Regions from separate parts of the Homo sapiens genome. Here region 1 is reported to be linked to region 2. The links are microRNA targets in miRTarBase. Many come from high-throughput screens and were not tested one by one. Region 2 holds a microRNA gene; the other region holds the end of a gene's coding sequence.

What was found. The annotated mature microRNA hsa-miR-4695-5p reads CAGGAGGCAGUGGGCGAGCAGG and lies in region 2 at 1,411-1,432, opposite strand. An mRNA with a match to its seed (bases 2 to 7 or 8) in the 3' UTR can be bound and repressed. Matches are read on the target gene's strand: a 7mer-m8 pairs with bases 2 to 8, a 7mer-A1 pairs with bases 2 to 7 and ends in A, and an 8mer does both.
Region 1: miRTarBase lists LBX1 as a target of hsa-miR-4695-5p. Seed matches in the 3' UTR shown: 7mer-m8 at 1,052-1,058.

What each region holds. Positions count from the first base shown.
Region 1 is chr10:101,223,157-101,228,215 of GRCh38, reverse strand. LBX1 (ladybird homeobox 1) reads left to right here. Exons shown (of 2, transcript NM_006562.5): 2 at 426-1,222. The coding sequence ends at 946. LOC124902491 (a long non-coding RNA gene) reads right to left here. Exons shown (of 2, transcript XR_007062267.1): 2 at 4,024-5,059. Among named protein-coding and RNA genes, the nearest start is that of LBX1, 3.8 kb to the left of the region's middle. RefSeq lists enhancers at 1,601-2,102, 4,877-5,059.
Region 2 is chr1:18,881,840-18,886,910 of GRCh38, forward strand. It overlaps MIR4695 (microRNA 4695), which reads right to left and starts at 1,436; the gene lies at 1,363-1,436. It overlaps ALDH4A1 (aldehyde dehydrogenase 4 family member A1), which reads right to left. Exons shown (of 15, transcript NM_003748.4): 4 at 4,625-4,672; 5 at 3,634-3,789; 6 at 1,440-1,589; 7 at 1,285-1,359; 8 at 1-48. RefSeq lists a silencer at 2,290-2,521.

The DNA.
Region 1 (5,059 bases), not on the chromosome of region 2:
GTCCTGGGCGCTCTTAGCCCGGCTACTCGGCGTGGGGAATCGAGAGTCTTTTGCCGGGGACCTTATGGGTAGGGTAGAGTTGAAGTGATTGGGAAGGGATGGAGAACCAACATTCACACCGCAATTAGGGTGTCTCTGTCTGGCTTTCTCATACCCTTAGAGACTTTGGGTCTTTCAAACCAACTCTTAGGTAGGGGGCAGAGACCAAAACAATTTTTCCTAGGGACTTCTGGGAGACCAAAGACAGGAGATGGTTTGCCATAGCCAAGACTTGCCCTGGTCCTGGAGGCTGAATTAAATCTGAGAAGGGAACATTGGTAGACTGCAGGCCGGACAGGCCTGGGTGGGTTACGGAGTTACGGGGGCGAGAGCCAGGGTGGGCTTCCTCTCTCCCAACGCGAGCCTACACTGTCCTTTCCTCCCAGGCCGCGACGGTATGACCATCTTTGGGCAGCGGCAGACCCCTAAGAAGCGGCGAAAGTCGCGCACGGCCTTCACCAACCACCAGATCTATGAATTGGAAAAGCGCTTTCTATACCAGAAGTACCTGTCCCCCGCCGATCGCGACCAAATCGCGCAGCAGCTGGGCCTCACCAACGCGCAAGTCATCACCTGGTTCCAGAATCGGCGCGCTAAGCTCAAGCGGGACCTGGAGGAGATGAAGGCCGACGTAGAGTCCGCCAAGAAACTGGGCCCCAGCGGGCAGATGGACATCGTGGCGCTGGCCGAACTCGAGCAGAACTCGGAGGCCACAGCCGGCGGTGGCGGCGGCTGCGGCAGGGCCAAGTCGAGGCCCGGCTCTCCGGTCCTCCCCCCAGGCGCCCCGAAGGCCCCGGGCGCTGGCGCCCTGCAGCTCTCGCCTGCCTCTCCGCTCACGGACCAGCCGGCCAGCAGCCAGGACTGCTCGGAGGACGAGGAAGACGAAGAGATCGACGTGGACGATTGAGCGGCGCCCCGGGTCTTCCGCCGCCCTGGGCTCCTAGCGCTCGAAAGCCCAACGCCTCCCGGACCGGACCGCCGAGGGGAGCTGGGACCTCCTCTGCCAACTCCCGCCTCCTCCCCTGTCCCCGGCCCCGGACTCGGCTCCTGGCAGCCGCCTCTTCCCTCTCGAAGCAATAAACCCAGGCTGGCCGGCCGGGCCGGCCGCCACCAGCGGCCTCCGCCGCCCCGGAAGCCCTCGCCGTGCAATTCTGTATGGCTTCTATATAAATATTTAAACCTATATAGCGGGTTCTTCCCACCGCAGCCTGATTTTTCCTTTCTTTTATTATTATTTTTTAAATCTCGGAGATTTCGATGTTTTCAAAGCTCTCGGGCTGCCGGGTTTGCTGAGGGCGAGACAGAAACCAGGGCGGGGAACACTAACCCTGCGGTCTAGGGGAGTGGCAGCTCCGGCTGTTTTGATTTTTCTCTGCATGTGGCGAATGCACCGGCCCGCTCCTTCCTCGCCTCCCTCGGCCTTATTGCAGTTGACTTCTATTTCCTCGGGCCTTTTTTCCTCATGTGGGAGGGGAAGAGGTGGGCAGTCAGGTCCTGACTTGCAAGTTTCAAAATCGATCTTTCCTCCCCACCCTCTGAGAGAAAAGTCTGTTTTCGATGCCATTTCTGCCTCCTAATGCCCACTAATGCTGTTTTTAAGATTCCTCCCTCCCTCCCGCATTTCCTCGGACTGACTGTTGGAGTCCGGCTCTTAGGGACAATGCAGGGGGAAATCCAACCAACCAACTATCGAAAACAGAACCCAAAGCCCTATAATTATTTTGTACTCTTTTTAGAATTTTTTTGCATGTGACAGAGACAGAGAGGAGGCCGACCCAAGCCCTCACCTCACCTCCTCCACAGCTCTGGGTCTCTCTTGCCACTTCGAACACCCCACTCCTACCCGACTTGGCCAGAGGAGGGTGGCTGGATGTGAGTGGGCTGCGAGTGCCCCTTCCCTGCTCCTCCCTTCCCCTCTCCTCCCTAGACTGTACCCAAGGCCTCTTTCTCCAATAAATAAAGTCTTTGCCATTTTACTAGAACCGGCGGCGACCGTGTCTGAGTGGTGGGCCCGTTTCCGAGAAGCAGCGGCAGGCTGGGCTTCTTGCCGCTCTTCGTGCCGGTCGCCCTAGCCTTGGAGATTTGGGGGGGATTTTCAGGACAGGCTTAAGAGTGAAGGGCGAGGGGGAAGCAGCAGGAGGAGGCGCCTCTTGCCCATAAACCTGAGGCAGCTGCTAAATCGGGAGAGAAGCGGGCTTCGCCAGGTCGGGGTAAAAAACGAGCCGTGAAATGCTGGGAGAAAATGCCTGTGTATGTGGGGGCACACCACAGTACAACATTAATTTGTGTTGAACAAAGGGTGGGAGGGGGTCTTGCCCTGCATTTCCTGCATCCCACCCCAGACCCAAGGGCATTCTCCCTGCACTCCCCGAAAACAGGGCTGAGCCCCGGGAGCGCTGCAGGTATCACTCAGTCAGACGCGGGGTGGAGCCTTGGGTTCCCAAGTTTCGATTCTAGCCCCGAGGGCCTCATCCTTGGGGAGTCGGGGGCCAAAGGCTAAAGGCATCAAGGCCAGGCTGAATTTCAATGTGGGCACCTGGAACTGTAAGCCCAAGCGTCTGGGAGCTGGTGTGAATTTCTGGCAACATTAACCAATTCTGCCTCCACACCCCGGCACACCGCTGGGGGCAGAGGTATGGATCTTGCAAGGACTCTCTCGGGTCTGCGGCGCCCCAAGGCCGGCTGGGGCGGGGGCTGAGGCCGCTTTCACTTTCCTGGACAGAGCGGGTTTCTCTCCGGGCTTTTGTTGTCGCTGGGCTGGCGAGTAGCCGCTGTCACCGGAGTGGGGTCCCGCCTCCGGGCCGCTGGGCTCTCTTTCTCCGCAAAATTGATGTGAGAAATGCGCATCTGGTCTCGGGCGGCGATGGGGCCCCCGGGCCCGAGCCAGGAACGTGCGTGTCCAGGAGGAAACGAAGAGACAGAGAGAAACAGGAAAAAAAAATAGGAGCACAGAAAGACACTCCAAAAGCAGAGAGAGAAAGCGGAGAGCCACAGAGACAGGACGGAGAAAAAGAGGAAAAAGAGAGAGAAACAGAGAAACGGAGAAAGGGAGACAGAGACAGAGGGAGAAAAAAAGAATGGGAAGAGAGGAGAAGAGAGAGAAGGAGCAGAGAAGGAAGGAGACGGCAGGGCAGCGGGGCAGGCGTGCGGCTGGTTCCTCCCGGGCGACAAAAATTGCCCTCTCTTAGGATGGATGGGTCTGTAATTCGGAGCGCGGACCATGAAGGCCGGGACGAATGGGCCTGGGCGGCCGCTGACAGGCGACAATAGCCGGGCCCAGCCCCCCGCGGCTCCCGGTGCGGGCACGGCCGCGGCCCTCCGCAGCCCAGAGCGCGCCGGCGCTGGCGACCATATGGTTTTTGAATTTTCTTCACAATTTGTAGACAATTTGATGGATTAGGTCCCCGCGCGCGCCTCCTCGGCACAAAGGCGGCGCAGGGACCACGGCGGGTCGGTCACCCGGGCATCTGCGCCCGCCGTGCGCACCCCCCCACTCGGCCCCCGCCCCGCGCCCGAAGCCCCAGGCCGCCCGCCCAACACGCTCATGAATCCCAATGAAGCGGCCCTGGCACCTCCGGCCGCTCTCTGCTTCGCGGCCCTGGGCCTGGCCCCGCTGGGTCCCTTTGGGCTGGGGGCGGCGGCCCCAGGGCTGAGCCCACCCGAGCTGCGGCGCCCGCGGGGCGCGCAGCTAAGCAGGCGCGTCGGGGCTGAGGAGAAACGGGGCCATTTATCCGCCCGTCTAGTTAAAGCGGGTTATTTGTTTGCTTCTCCGGCCTGCCCCCTCCCCTCCCTTCCCCCTCTCTCCTCCCCCGCCCTTCCCCTTCTGCCTTTTATTCTTTTGTCTCTAAATGGATTTAATGAGCCTGAAAAACATGACAATTGAATATAACCAAGAAATAAAAAATAACGAGGGAGGAAGGAAGGAGGAAAAGAAAGAATGAAAGAAGGAAGGGGAAGGATTAATAAAATAAGGAGAAAACGCAATTCAATTCAGCAAATGTTTATTGCGCGTCTTTTCTGCGCCAGGCCGCGCAGGGGGGCTGGGAAAATGGAAACGAATCAGATTCGGTTCCTGCCCTCAAGGAGCTCCTAGTCTAGTGGGCAAGACTCGCAGCACCCCCAGCGCTAGTAGAAGCGGACCGAGGGACAGGGCCGTGCCAGTTGCAAAACACTGAGAGGCAGCTACCAGGGTGTTGGCGGCTTCACAGAGGAGGTGGCTTGGGACCCGGGCCTTGAAAGGCGAAAAGTAGTTCGTTGTTTCCATAGGCCAGAGAAGAGAGCCAGTGGAAGGAAGGACCAGAGCTGCGGCGGGGGGAAGGGGTAACGAAGTGTACGTGAGAGCCTCGGCTGAACCCGAGCTAAGGAGGCCACGCGAGAGCGCCCTGCGCGCTCGGTCCCGCACAATGTGGGAAGTGGATTCGAGCCTCTCCGCAGTGTCCTCTGCTCTGAGGAATTCGCTGCCTCCATCAGGTTCCGGGTGGGCTTCCGGAGCCCAGCCGACAGCTCTGTTGAGGCCGCGGACTAGCACTGGACTCTGCCTGGACTAGCACCCGACTCTGCCTGGACTAGCACCCGGGCTTGGGGCTTATCTCTAGGTCCCATTGCGCAGGGAGGCGGCGAGGAAGTCAGCAGCTCTGGGCAAAAGCTGAGGGGCTTGGCTGTAGGCGGAGGCGAGGATCTGGGATCCAGGGAGGCCTGGGCTCTAAGCCCACTCTCTCTTTAGCTCCCCCAGTTCTGAAGAAGTCTGCTACCTGCGCGCGGCCCGGGGACCTCGGATGGTCTTGGCTGTGCCTCAGGCGCTGCCGCTGGGACCGGCGATGTGAGAGAGCCTCAAATCCCAAGTTCGGGCCCGAGGCCTCTTAGCTCACGCCTGCCGGGCCTGTCTCGGGATACTGCAAACAGCAGTGGTGTGTTCGCCCAAGTGTAGGCTCCAAGGGAGCGGGGCTTGTGTATTGCGTGTCTGTTTCTTCTCCTGGTCTGAGTGTACGAGGGAGCTTGGCCTGGGTTGTGTGAGGGGCTG
Region 2 (5,071 bases):
GCTGGCCAGCATGGCAGTGTCACTGGGCTTCCATAGGACCACGTTGCCCTGCCCGGGAGGTGTTTCAGTGATGCATGAGGATGGCGCCACCAGCCCCCAACCCCCACCCCACCCTACCCTACAGCATGGTTGTCCCTCACCTGGAACCACCAGACTCTGTGCCAACCAGGACATCCCCTACCCGACCCCACTCCTCCAAGGCGTCTGGCCCTATCTCCAAAAGTCCCTGCCAAGGAGGCCACGGCACAGCCCAATCTGCCCCACGCTCTGGCCAAGGCTCCCTTTCCCCAGAAGCCTGCACCAACCGGTCCTGCCATCACCTAGGCAGGTCTGTTCTTACTGCTAGAGTCACTGAGTGCTCACCGGGCGCGGCGGGGCAAGTACACACGGGCTCTCTCAGCACATGTCCTGGGTCAGGCATGTGCAGCAGCCAGGCACGTGGGCGCCTGGCCATGCACCGTGTTTGTCTGTGCACAGATGCATGAGGACGTCCCCATCCATGTCCCTAGTACACACTCCGGCATCAGCATCCAGTGCCCCTGTCTGGGGCTCGGGGTTCCCGACAACTATGTGGACCTCTCCCACCCAGGCTGTCTGGGAGCTGGGCTGCACCTCCCCCACAGGCCTGGGACTTCATCCAGTAATAGCCAACCTCACTCCGATAATGGCAGAGGAGTGACTTGAATACCATCAACCCCGAGAGAGACTACATCCAAATCTTTCTCTGCTCCATCATTTATTTACTAGTCACTCAGTCTTGCCAAGTAAGTCACGGCTGTGTGTCTCAGTTTTGTCATCTGGCAAAGAGGCAGAGTCACAACTCCCTCTCGAAGCTGCTGAGAGGATGAAATGAGATCATCTCCATGCCGTGCTTGACAGCAGCAGGCACGTGGTGAGCACTGAAGGTCAGCGGTAATGATCATCAACAGAGCCACCAACACTCAGCCAGCTCCGGGCCAGCCCTGCCTGCTGCTGGATGTGTCTCATTTGAGCCTCACAACCCAGTCATGGAGGCTTTCCTATTATTTCCACTTTGCAGATGAGGAAACTGTGCCTCAGAGAAGTTCAGGGATTGCCAGGGTCTCCCAGGCAGAGAGGCACGACGCTGGGATTCAAACTGGGTCTCTGGTCCCAAAGCCTACCCACAGCCCCAAGCTGCCTCCACCTTCTGTGCCTCTCCCCATGACTAGGCTGAGACCCAAGGGGCTCAGGGTGGCCTCTGTCTGTCTGTTGGGACCAGGAGGACAACCAGCTGCCGCTGTCCCACCTGTGCCCACATCTCACCATCAGGGCCGGTGCCCCCGCCAGGTTGCCGCCGATTGCAGTGAAGTTAAAGGGCGAGATGGCCGCCACGAAGCCCTGGGGAAGGAGGCAGCGGTGAGATCAGGCCCATGGCATTGGGCTGCCCCGCCTGCTCGCCCACTGCCTCCTGCAGGTACCTCCAGACCCCGGTACACCGTGCTGTTGGTGCTCGGGGGCACGCTGATGGGCTGCTGCCCCTCCAGCTCCACCGCATACTTGGCATTGAACCGGAAGAAGTCGATGAGTTCCGCTGCAGCGTCAATCTCCGCTTGGATCACGGTCTTACCCTGCAAGGCAGAGGGCCGGGGGTCAGGAGCAGCCAACAGCCTCCTGTCCATCCTCTTCTCACATCTGACGCTGTGCCCAAAGCGAGCACTGAGCCGGGCCCCAGGAGGGACCAGGAAACATTTGGAGGGCTCACCAGGTCCCATCCCAGGGGCTGAGGGGGAAAGGATTCTCAAGCCCCTGAGCTAGCACCTCCTGTAGCCGGCCCTCTGGGCTGGACGGGGATCAGAAGAATTTTAGTGATCCTCTGTAGCAGGCCAGGTACTTGCCATGCACTGTCTTCATTTCATAGCAACTCTGAATGGTGGTGCATGGCAAAGGATCTATGGTCAAGCCTCAGACTAAATTCAGGATCAGAGCCTTCCAGACAGAAGGGCAGATTAGCATGAGCTGGAGATTGGTCACTGGAAAACCAGGAGAGAGACTCGGTGTGTGGGAGGTGGATGGCTCCTTCCCCAGGAATGATGTTCGGCCTTGCTGGTTAGTTTGGGCCAAAAACCAAGAGGCGAGTGACTGTGATTCCCTTAAACCGTCAATTCTTAATAACAGCAAATGTGAGCTGCAGGGAAAAGAACTGTGGACAGCCAAGAACGGGGCTTTTCCAGATTGACGTGGCCTCCTCTTGGCACCCAAGGTCACTGGCAGGTGCACGACCTATTAGAGACACACAGCCCATGAAGCTGAGCTAAGATGTGTACCTTGCTTCCTAGAAGTTCCTGAGTCTTAGGCCAAATACAGAGAAAGCCTAAACTGATCCTAGACTGTCTTCCCAGCAACGTGCGGCTCACCAGGAACACGCAGAGCTGACGCCCACCCCAGAGGGCTGCTGAGCCAATCTAAGAAGGCATTTAGCAGGCTGAGGGGCTGTCATACCAGCTCTGTGCAGCAGAGGGGGCGCTCACCATGGGGACCGAGGAGCAGGCAGTGGCAAATGCCTGATCCAGAAAGCAGCCTGGGTTCTGGCTCCTGCAATTTACCCTTCAGGAACCCAGGTTAGTTGGCAGCGTAGGGCTCAGGTCCTGGAGGTGGTGAAATAACCCTTTCTCCCTCGACTCCTGTCCCCCGCACACTCTGCCTGCTAGAGCCACTCCTCACTCAACTTGCATTTAGCAGGGTGAGGAGCTGTCATGCCAGCTCTGTGCAGAGAAAACCATTGATCAGGGGCTTGCTATGCCTCCTGAAAGGTATCATGCAAAGCCCAGAAAAAGACCGAGAATGTCAAGACATGTTTACTATGTCCAAAAAGCTTGTAAAGGGGCAGTACCTAGGAACTCAATACACTCCAGTGCAATCTGAGCTGTAACTGATGCAGGAACAACATGCTCTGGGGAAACAGAGGCAGGAATAGTCCTTTCGGCTGGAGAAGGCTCAGGAAGTCTCACGGAGGGGGTGACATCTGGGCTGGACCAGGAGGTAAGAGTTCACTGAGCACGGAAGAGACAGCAGGCATTCCAGGCAGGAGGACACGTGGGCAGAGGCAGAGAGGATGCCTGCCATGGCCGGGGAGTCCTGCTAAGTGCCAAATGGCTACACTATGGGCAGGACAGCTTGGCAGGGAAATGCAGAGCAGTGGGCGAGCTGGACAGAGGTGGGCAGAAGGGCCCTGGGTATGGGGCTCAGGTCTTGGGACTTGCCTCTCAGTGGTGGAGAGGTCTGGGTGGGTCATAAGCCAGGAGTAACATCCTGGAGGTGTTGGAAAGACCACTCTGAGGGCGGCGAGGGGCTGACCAAGCTAGGAGGCAGGGAGACAGTGCAGGCCACCACCAGTCCAGGCAAAGCATGACAAAGGCCTAGGAGCGAGGACAGAGGGATGGAGGAGAGGGGACATTTCCGAGGCAGGACACATGGGCTCTGCACAATCTGTCTCGCCTAATAATCTGTGATCATCCATCCCAGCTCCTAGGCCTTGTCCCTTGAGGACATCTCTGGGTCCCCAAAAGGGCTTAGGACCCAGAAGCGCTTCAGCTGATGTCTGCTGCCATGGGTAGGGCACACCTGACTCCCACCCCACCCCGCCCCACCCACCCGGGCCCACCAGCACCTCACCTGTCCCACCATGGTCTTGGCGAGGATCTCAGCCCTGCGCGGCCCACTCAGCATGTCTGCCGCCTTCAGGAAGATCTGGGCCCGGTCTGCAATAGGCTTCAGGTCCCACTCTTTCCGGGCAGCCAGGGCAGCCTCAATGGCTTTGTTGAGCAGGCTCTAAAGGGAGAGGGAGAGGTTGGGGACTGCCACCTGCAGCGGGAAAGGCCCTGGGGAGTGAGCGAGGGAGGAGAGACCTGGGAGGCCACTCTCTTCCATCCGGGGACAATGCCTGTCTCCCTGGGCCCTCAGCCCCCTGCCACCATAGCTGCCAACAACAGCGTCCCATCAGAGCCTGTAGTGGCTGCCAGTCTGAAGCCTGAAGGGCCCGGCCAGGTTGGTCAGCTCTCCGAGGCCTTGGCACTGAGTCCCGCAGCTGTTACACTGGCTCCACTTTCTCTCATGGTCTAATCAAAACCTTACCTTATTCTTGGGACCTGGTGCCCCTTAACCCACCATCCAGAAACTTGAGGTCAACTGGAGCCTGAGACACGGCTCTGCTGCTGGCCTCCCAGACCCCAACTGCCCTCATCGCCACACAATGCCAGTTCCTGGACCCCCAGCCACCCCAGCCCCTCCTGCTGGCCCTTTCCAGTGCCAATTCTTGGCCTAGCTTTCCATCAATGGTGTCTCCAATTGCCCTGACTCAGCCTTCCAGAATCCACCTCCTCCCCAGTCCAAGGTCTGCCCCACCACAATGGGCATGTCTGGGAATGTCTCAGCCCTGGCTGAGGCAGCTTGTGTTTGGCTCAAGTTAACCTTTGTATGCCTGGCCCAGTCAAAGACATCACCCAGGGACTCCCTCAGTGTCAGCCACCCCCTGCCCACCTACCCACCATGGCCAAAGAAGGACACAGCAACTGATGCCCCCTGCCCCCGCCATATCAGCAGCTGGCAGGGCAGAGCAGGGGCAGCAACCCTAACCCCGGGTCACCAGGCACACAGGCTCACTCACCTTGTCTGCATAACAGAACTTGGCCACCTTATGTCCATGGTTAAAAGGCTGAAAGGAGAGAAGAGTGAGGTCCTTGCCCGGGAGGGAGGTGCCAGGATAAGGATGAAGAGGACTGGACTCAGAGCCGGTTTTCCAGGAAAGTCCTGGACACGCCTGCTGTCCCCCCTCCCCCGCTCCCATGAAACCCTCCCCAGTGCCCGGCCCACAGGTTGCTCCCTGTTAAGGGTGCTGGTGTACCCGCTATACCATGAGTAAGACATGGCTCCTTCTCCAGAAGGCTCAGAGTCCAGGAGAAAGGCATAGACCCCAGGGTCTTTCCAGGAAAGCACGGACCTTTGTGGTCAGAGAGACATGGGTTCGAATCCTGGCTCTGCCACCTACTAGCTGTGGGGCCCCAGGTAAGCTCACTTCCTTCCCTAAGTCTCTTCATCTAGGAAATGGGGACTG